2 separate regions of the Homo sapiens genome follow, and region 1 is linked to region 2. Evidence: fine-mapped expression QTL. A gene starts in region 2. The other region holds a variant in brackets. All regions are shown on one strand. Distances are between the middles of the regions.

What was found. PIP is the estimated chance that this variant, and not a neighbour inherited with it, causes the effect. A credible set is the group of variants that fine-mapping cannot tell apart.
Region 1: its variant is the best candidate, but not a certain one, in a credible set for the expression of PHEX in esophagus muscle (GTEx, PIP 0.85).

What each region holds. Positions count from the first base shown.
Region 1 is chrX:22,095,662-22,099,661 of GRCh38, forward strand. PHEX (phosphate regulating endopeptidase X-linked) reads left to right here. Exons shown (of 22, transcript NM_000444.6): 8 at 1,294-1,377; 9 at 3,345-3,490. Among named protein-coding and RNA genes, the nearest start is that of PHEX, 65 kb to the left of the region's middle. The variant G/A (reference allele first, on the strand shown) is at 2,377.
Region 2 is chrX:22,030,136-22,034,135 of GRCh38, forward strand. It overlaps PHEX (phosphate regulating endopeptidase X-linked), which reads left to right and starts at 2,190. Exons shown (of 22, transcript NM_000444.6): 1 at 2,190-2,988. The coding sequence starts at 2,871.

The sequences.
Region 1 (4,000 bases), 66 kb after region 2:
GGGTGAAGAAAGGGAAGCTAAGGACACTGAAGCATTTAGCAAAGAGGGGCCAGACGTCTGCCAGTCAGCCCTCTGTAATTTTTACCTTGAAAAATCACTGCTAGTAATGCTCACTTCCATATCTTACACTACACATCACTAGGTACTTTTAAAATTAGTGGGATACATAGTCCTATGGAAACTTCTGAAGCTGGGAAGACAAGACAGTCCAGCCCAGCCAAATACGTCCTTGTAATTACAACCAGGGAAGCATATACTTAACCAATCCAGCTAGAGAGATGTGTGCACAAGGAGAGGTTTTATTGATGGAGTAGCCCTTGTGATTGGAACCAAGTGGAGTGTAATTGGAAAGGCTTGCTAGATGCAGTGAGTCTTGGGCAGTCCTGAGTCATAGTTCAAACCATGGAGGTGGTGATGGTGGATAGGAGATGCAAGAGTCGGAGAGTCATGTGTGCAGTGGGAAGGTGGCAAGTTTAATGCAAGGGAATTAGATGATGGAAGGCCCGAAGGCAAAGTCATGACGTGATTGAGGGGTGGATATGTGAGCTACTGCTGGTCAATGGAAGTGATTAAGATGATCCTTGAGGAAGATAATCATTGCTGCTGTTCTTAGGTTAAACATAGTGGAGGCTAGAAGCTCAGATTTGGTGTTGGCCAAATGGCCAAGAGCATGAGTATTAGGAATTGAAAGAGTATAGAGCCAGGGCTAGAGAGAGGCAAGTTTTGAAATGTGTGTCCAGGCGGTGACTAAATCCATACCCCCAGCAATGGGGCTAGGGAAATCTCAAGGCCAAAGAGACAAGAGGGGAAATGAGGGAATGAGCTGTTGACAAAATGATCACGGGGAACAGTGGCATCCAGATAGTCTTGTGTTCATCAGTGAAAATTTGCCCCTAGAGGTGAAGGGATGGTCTGTGGTTCATGAAATATTGAAATCATTATCTGGAGACCACAGGTGACAATGGGATGTTTACCTCAATGTCCAACTTAAGTTTGATTGTCAAAATTGAGCCAGCAATAGATTTTGCCCATCCACATTATAGATTGGGAGGGAGATTTGGGGTAGTTCTTTTTGTACTGGGGACAATATTTCACACAGAGGAGGATATGAAAGTTTATTTTCTTAATCCTGCCTAAAGTGATGTCTTTTTTTCTCTTCCCCGAGTTGGGGACCACACCAAAGCCTTGAAAAACTTTATAATACTATGCAGATGTTTTGGCACATGTAGGAAGTAATCATACAGTAAGAAATGGTTCACTTGAAAAAAAATAACAAAAATCTCTTTTCAACAGATAATGATTCCACATGAAAACCGAACCAGCGAGGCCATGTACAACAAAATGAACATTTCTGAACTGAGTGCTATGATTCCCCAGGTTGGTGAAAACTATCCAGAAAACTTTCTCTCAACTCATCATTTTAGAAGGGATTGGATTTCATCTCTGTGTAAATTTGTGTCTTGTAAAACCTGCTCTCAGTCTTGGTTATCATCATCTTTGTCAACAATCACATAAAATATCCCTTGTCTGTGTATTGGGATGCCTTCTGTTACAGGGAACAAAACATCTTTCCAACAGTGGCTTAGAAACTTAAAGCCTATATTCTCACATGACAAAAGTCTAGACATAGGTAATTGTTGGCATTGGCTCAGCTGTTTAACAGTGTTGTCAAAGGCCCAAGTTCTTTCTATCTTTCCATCCTACTGTGTTTAGTGTGTTGGCTTTTTGACTTCATGTTTGATGACTCATGGTTCCAAGGTATCCATCACAGCTCCATATATCACATCTGCTGTCAGAGCAGGAAGAAGGTGAAAGGGCCAGTGATGTGTCTAACTCTTTTACTAGGAAAAACAAACAAGCCTTTCCAGAACATCTCCAGATGTCTTCCCTTTATTTCTTATTGAGTAGGATTGGGTCACATGGCCACTCCTAACCACAGGGGAGGTTGGGCAAGTGAGTAACTGGTTTTCCGTTTCAACAGTGGACACAGGCAAGGAAGAAAAGGTTGGGAAAAGACTTTTAGAGTAGCCAATCTAAAAAACACCATATGGTGTTTTAGGTAGGATAGGGATGCTCTGAAGAATGGAGGCATGTTACTTTCTGTGTTTTTATTTGTTTTTTTTTGAGACACAGTCTTGCTGTGTCATCCAGGCTGGGGTGCAGTGGTGTGATCTTGGCTCATTGCAACCTCTGCCTCCCGGGTTCAAGTGATTCTCCTGCCTTAGCCTCTCGAGTAGCTGGGATTACAGGTGCCGGCCACCACACCTAGCTAATTTTTGTATTTTTGATAGAGATGGGATTGGCCAGGCTGGTCTCAAACTCCTGACCTCAAATGATCCACCTGCCTCGGCCTCCCAAAGTGCTGGGATTACAGGT[G/A]TGAGCTACCATGCCTGGCTGCATTTACTTTCTGTTGCTGCTTATTTCCTCTTGTGTTTTTTTTTTTTTTTTTTTAAAAACTGTGTCACAGAGACAAATTATGTACTGGGGCATCTGTTTCTGTGTGTATGTGAGAGTGAGGGAGAGTACAGGACAGAGAAAGGGAGGGAGGGAGAGAGAAAATGTACCGTATAGAGGAAGAATTTAGAAGGAGGAAGAGAAATGCAGGAGAGAAGGAGGGAAGAGTATGGGAGGAAGAAAGAGTATAGAATAGAGGAAGAGTACTGGACAGGGAGAGAGCAGAATGGGGAGAGAAAGACAGAGGGGAGAGTTCAGGAAGGAGGAAGAGTACTGGAGGGGGCCAAGGGAGTGAGGGTGCATATTACTGTGTTAGTGTGTGTGTGGGTGTCGTCCAGATGTAGATGGTACAGAACACATGCTCCATTTGTGATTAAGACAATAGGTCAGGCCGAGCATGGTGGCTCATACCTGTAATCCCAGCACATTGGGAGGCCAAGGTGGGTGGATCACTTGAAGTCAGGAGTTCGAGACCAGCCTGGCCAACATGGTGAAATTCCACCTCTACTAAAAATACAAAAAAAAAAAAAAAATTAGCCAAGTGTGGTGGCAGGTGCCTGTAATCCCAGCTACTCAGGAGGCTGAGGCAGGAAAATTGCTTGAACCCAGGAGGCAGAGGTAACAGTGAGCCAAGATCATGCCACTGCACTCCAGCCTGGGTGATAGAGCGAGAATGTCTCAAAAAAAAAAAAAAAAAAAAAAAAAAAAAAAAGACAATAGGTCTGGATGGCAATGATCAGGAGTTTATTTTCTAGACTTGAGTAGTTGCATCTTGAATTATTAGGTGTGAAATCAAAAGAAATGAATGATGCTCAATCTACTCTATCTGCCTTTCTTACTTGCTACCTAACCGAGATTCTCTCATTCTGTTTTGTTCTCTCTCCCCTCAGTTCGACTGGCTGGGCTACATCAAGAAGGTCATTGACACCAGACTCTACCCCCATCTGAAAGACATCAGCCCCTCCGAGAATGTGGTGGTCCGCGTCCCGCAGTACTTTAAAGATTTGTTTAGGATATTAGGGTCTGAGAGAAAGAAGTAAGAACTTTCACATGAATTTTACTGTGACTTTTGTGTTTTCTTTAAATTATAAGGGCTTCCCTTCTCACATCCTTTGAAAACTGTTTTTAAAGAATGTTACATCAAAAGAGTCATAGGGAAAATCCCGGTGTCCTTTGTGATGAACTGGCCAAAAGCACTGTCTGGTGTAATTTACTTGCTGCAATGATAACAAATGTTTTTGCCCTTTATTTCTGGTCTTTCTCCATGCTGTTCTCTTTGAGATCCTAAATTGTTTATGAGCTTGGGGAGCTAGTCATATAATGATGTTATTTTCTAAAATGTCTGTGTGAACATCTTTTTTTTTCCCCAGTTCATTCTCAATCTTTTGCTGCTTTTTTTTTTTTTTCCTGGTTCCTTTTTAACCATTAAGTCACTTTCTGGCAATAAACTAAAGTAACTGTATTGAGAAGACACAAGACCACCTTGAGAGTGGTAGAAAAATTGCACGGATAAAACAACTTTAGGAACTGCCAGGTTTTTCTTATT
Region 2 (4,000 bases):
TCCCGAGTAGCTGGCATTACAGGCATCCACCACCACCTCCGGCTAATTTTTGTACTTTCAGTAGAGTCGGGGTTTCGCCATGTTGGCCAGGCTGATCTCGAACTCCTGACCTCAGGTGATCCACCCACCTTGGCCTTTTGGTTTTTTTGAGACACAGTTTCATTCTGTCACCCAGGCTGGAGTGCAGTGGCTCAATCTCAGCTCACTGCAGCCTCCACTTCCCAGGTCCAAGCGATTTTTGTGCCTCAGCTTCCCCGAGTAGCTGGGATTACAGTCACGTGCCACCACACCTGGCTAATTTTTGTATTTTTAGTAGAGACAGGGTTTCGCCACATTGGCCAGGCAGATCTCGAACTCCTGACTTAGAGTGATCTGCCCACCTCAGCCTCCCAAAGTGTTGGGATTACAGGTGTGAGCCACCACTTCTGGCCCCGAAGTTGGTTTTTTGTTTTGTTTTGTTTTGTATTTGTTTTTTTCCAGACAGTCTTGCTCTGCCGCCCAGACTAGAGTTCAGTGGCATGATCTCAGCTCGCTGCAACCCGCCTCCTGAGTTCAAGCAACTCTCCTGCCTCAGTCTCCTGAGTAGCTGGGATTACAGGCGCCTGCTACCACGCCCGGCTATTTTTTGTATTTTTAGTAGAGACAGGGTTTCACCATGTTGGCCAGGCTGGTCTCGAACTCCTGACCTCGTGATCCACCCGCCTTGGCCTCCCAAAGTACTGGGATTACAGGCGTGAGCCACTGCGCCCAGCTGAAGCTGGTTGTTAAGAGTAAGTGGCTAGGGCTAACTTGTATGATTTTTATTGCTCTCCTTTTCACTGTGAAGGGCCAGGAAATGTCGATGTTGGAGCTGCAACATTGAACATGGTTCCTGACTTTGTGGAACTCATGGTCTAAGATGTGTTCTAGAGTGAGGTCCAAAAACTCTTGGGAGAATCCCATACTAGGGGCCAAAGTCCTGCTAGGGTGTGTTATGGAATAACAGCAACAAAATAATGTCAACAGCCAATGAGCACAGGATAACTACAACACACCATGATGTCATAACTTGGACAAAGGCTTGTGACCCCCTGACTTTGGCGCAACATGAAATGAGCAGAAAGTAAGGTATATTATGGAATAAGCCCCAAAACTTGAGAGAATCCCATGCTAAGGGCTTAAGCCCTGACCAAGACAAGCCAGACAGGACCATGAATGTGTGGCCATGTTATACTGAGCTCATCAGCACCTGCTGAGCTCCTGTGTCACCTCTAAAGCCATGCGCACAAGTTTTGCATTGAGATAATTGCTCTACTGGTTTCTAGATATAGTTGAATTCTCCACCCCCACTCCCACTGCCCTATGACCTCCAGCAAAACAAAAGCAGGTAGGTAGTAATTGTGTTGTGAGTTAACGATATCTATATCTTTGGATAATAAAATCTATATCATTTCAGTGGTAGCATTGGAATATCAGTTGCCCTTCCCCATGAAGAAAGCACATTGTTATCGTTTAAATCATTATCATAATCAAAAATATCAAAGACCCAGTCATTCATCAGTCTTTCCAGTGAAGTCAACTGCCTTTGTTTTTTGTTTGTTTATTTTTGAGACAGGGTCTCTCTCTCTGTCACCCAGGTTAGAGTGCAGTGGCGCGATCTGGCTCACTGCAACCTCCACCTCCCAGGCTCAAGCGATTCTCCCACCTCTGCCTCCTGAGTAGCTGGGAATACAGGTGCTCACCAACATGCCCGGCTAATTTTTGTGTTTTTAGTACAAACAAGGTTTCGCCTTGTTGGCCAGGCTGGTCTCGAACTCCTGGCCTCAAGCGAGCCCCCTGCCTCAGCCTCCCAAAGTGCTGGGATTACAGGCGTGGGCCACTACGCCCGGCCTGAAACCAATTGCCTTTGAATTCATCCTGGGGAATCTGCTGAAGTGGACAGTTTATGTAAACACAAAAACATCCTAATGAATGGCTGCCTCAGTAGGAGTGGCAGACAAAACACATGGTGCACTTTTCATCAAAAACACACAAGGAAAAAATTTTTCATCATATCTTTTGTAGTTGCTAATAAACTTAATTCACGCACTTGTGTTTTTTTGTGGGTTTTTTTTTTTGTACACTTCTTAGTACCACAAAGAGGAAGTGCTTTTTCTCCTTCCTTTAAGAAAAAGTTCCAGTTCAAACCATCAGCCTCTGTAGGTTGTCTTAATTGCTACTTTGCACTGCACTGGACTATGACTGATTTTTGGCACATGCTATCATACACAAAGTTCCTGAAATAAAATGCTCCAGGATATCCTAGGAACTCTTAGAAGGCTTTAAAAAGGGACTCACACACTGAAAGAATATCTTTGATGAAGACAATTCAGGCAAGCAGAATGATTCTTGCAACAGAATTACATGATTAATTGAGATCTTGAAGTGGGTCCGGTGAATCCTGGCCACCTAACTTATCATGATTTGGGGGAGTTTCACGAGAATCCAGTTTTGATAAAACAATTGTTTTTTTCCTCCCCAAGTGACTATACATTTAAATAGCTAAAACATCTGTTCAGCAACATAGTAAAACATATATACTCGGAACGCTTGAGAGAAGAGCCTGCCAAACAGGGACTTTGCTGAGGGAGAGCACCAAGATAAAGCAACACTGTTTGTTTTGTCTAGTCAGGGGGAAAGCCAAGGCAACCAATATTTTGGTTTTTATAATTTTCATTTGTGAAGAATTATTTGAGAAAGGGTGGCGAGGGGAGATTTCCTGACGGCAGTTTCTTAAGCTGTCCATTAGTAGAAGAGCAAGAAAGCCTTGGATGTCAACGCCTCGCTCTTGAGACCAGCCACCAAACCACGAAAAGTGACTTTCTTCTCGTGTGCTCTCTACGGCCCTTCTGATGGAAGCAGAAACAGGGAGCAGCGTGGAGACTGGAAAGAAGGCCAACAGAGGCACTCGAATTGCCCTGGTCGTGTTTGTCGGTGGCACCCTAGTTCTGGGCACGATCCTCTTTCTAGGTAAGTGGAGTGCAGGAGGCCGGGGGAACTGGGTGTGTGTCGAGAAGTTTCCTTGTGCTTTATTGTAGCAAAACTTGTCATAACACAGGTATAGGGCTGTTTGCCTGCGTTCATAGGTGGTGTATCTTTAGTTTCTATCAAATATGCAAATGATAAAGAAGGCTTTTTTAAGGAGCCTAAATAAATAAATACACCCAAGTACCAAATGTATAGTCCAGAAGGCAAAGTGGGTGTAAGTGGCTTCGAGTGGCTGGCTGATTCTGTTGCATTGGGTGGAAAATTTTTTATGTGGTACATTTAGCAAAATGAGTGTTTGTGAATTCATAGTCACATAGTTTCATTTATATTTTGAGGAAAGACTTTACATTGTGATGAAAACCATGCTGGAGTGTCTTTCCATTTGACTTTTATTAATGTTTGCTTGAACGAATCATGAAATTTAATTCACAAAACACAAATCAGTCCTTTAAAGTGTGCTTTTAATGATATTCTTCAATTCCTTTCTTATCCAGTGACTCTGGTGAGATGCAATTTGATTTACAAATTAATATGAAGGAAAACAGAGGTTTTCCCCCAAGATTTGAAAGATATTGTGATTCAGTTATTTTAATGACTGTTGGTGAGAATGATGTACCCAGAGAGTATATAGGATGATAGAAGTGTATTCCCATGAAAAAGAATCAAATATCTTGGAAAGGAGTGAGGGATTTTCTAAAATTCTAGGCTTTCTGAACCCTTGACTATTACCGTTTTAATTTTTCTCATACAACCCATAATACTTCATTAACTTGAACGTTACATAGGAACGAGGAGATTCTAGGTGCAGTTTGAAATGTAGCAAACCTGCAGGAGGCCATGTTTATTTTGGCAGGGGTAAACCAGTAATTAAACTTTAAAAGAGTTAGGGTTGTGTGGTTGAAAACTGCTAAAATGAGCAAACCATCTTTCCACGCTTTCTGTGGCTGAAGATTTAGGAAATTAGATGGGTTTATTGCTTTCTGATAAAGCGAAA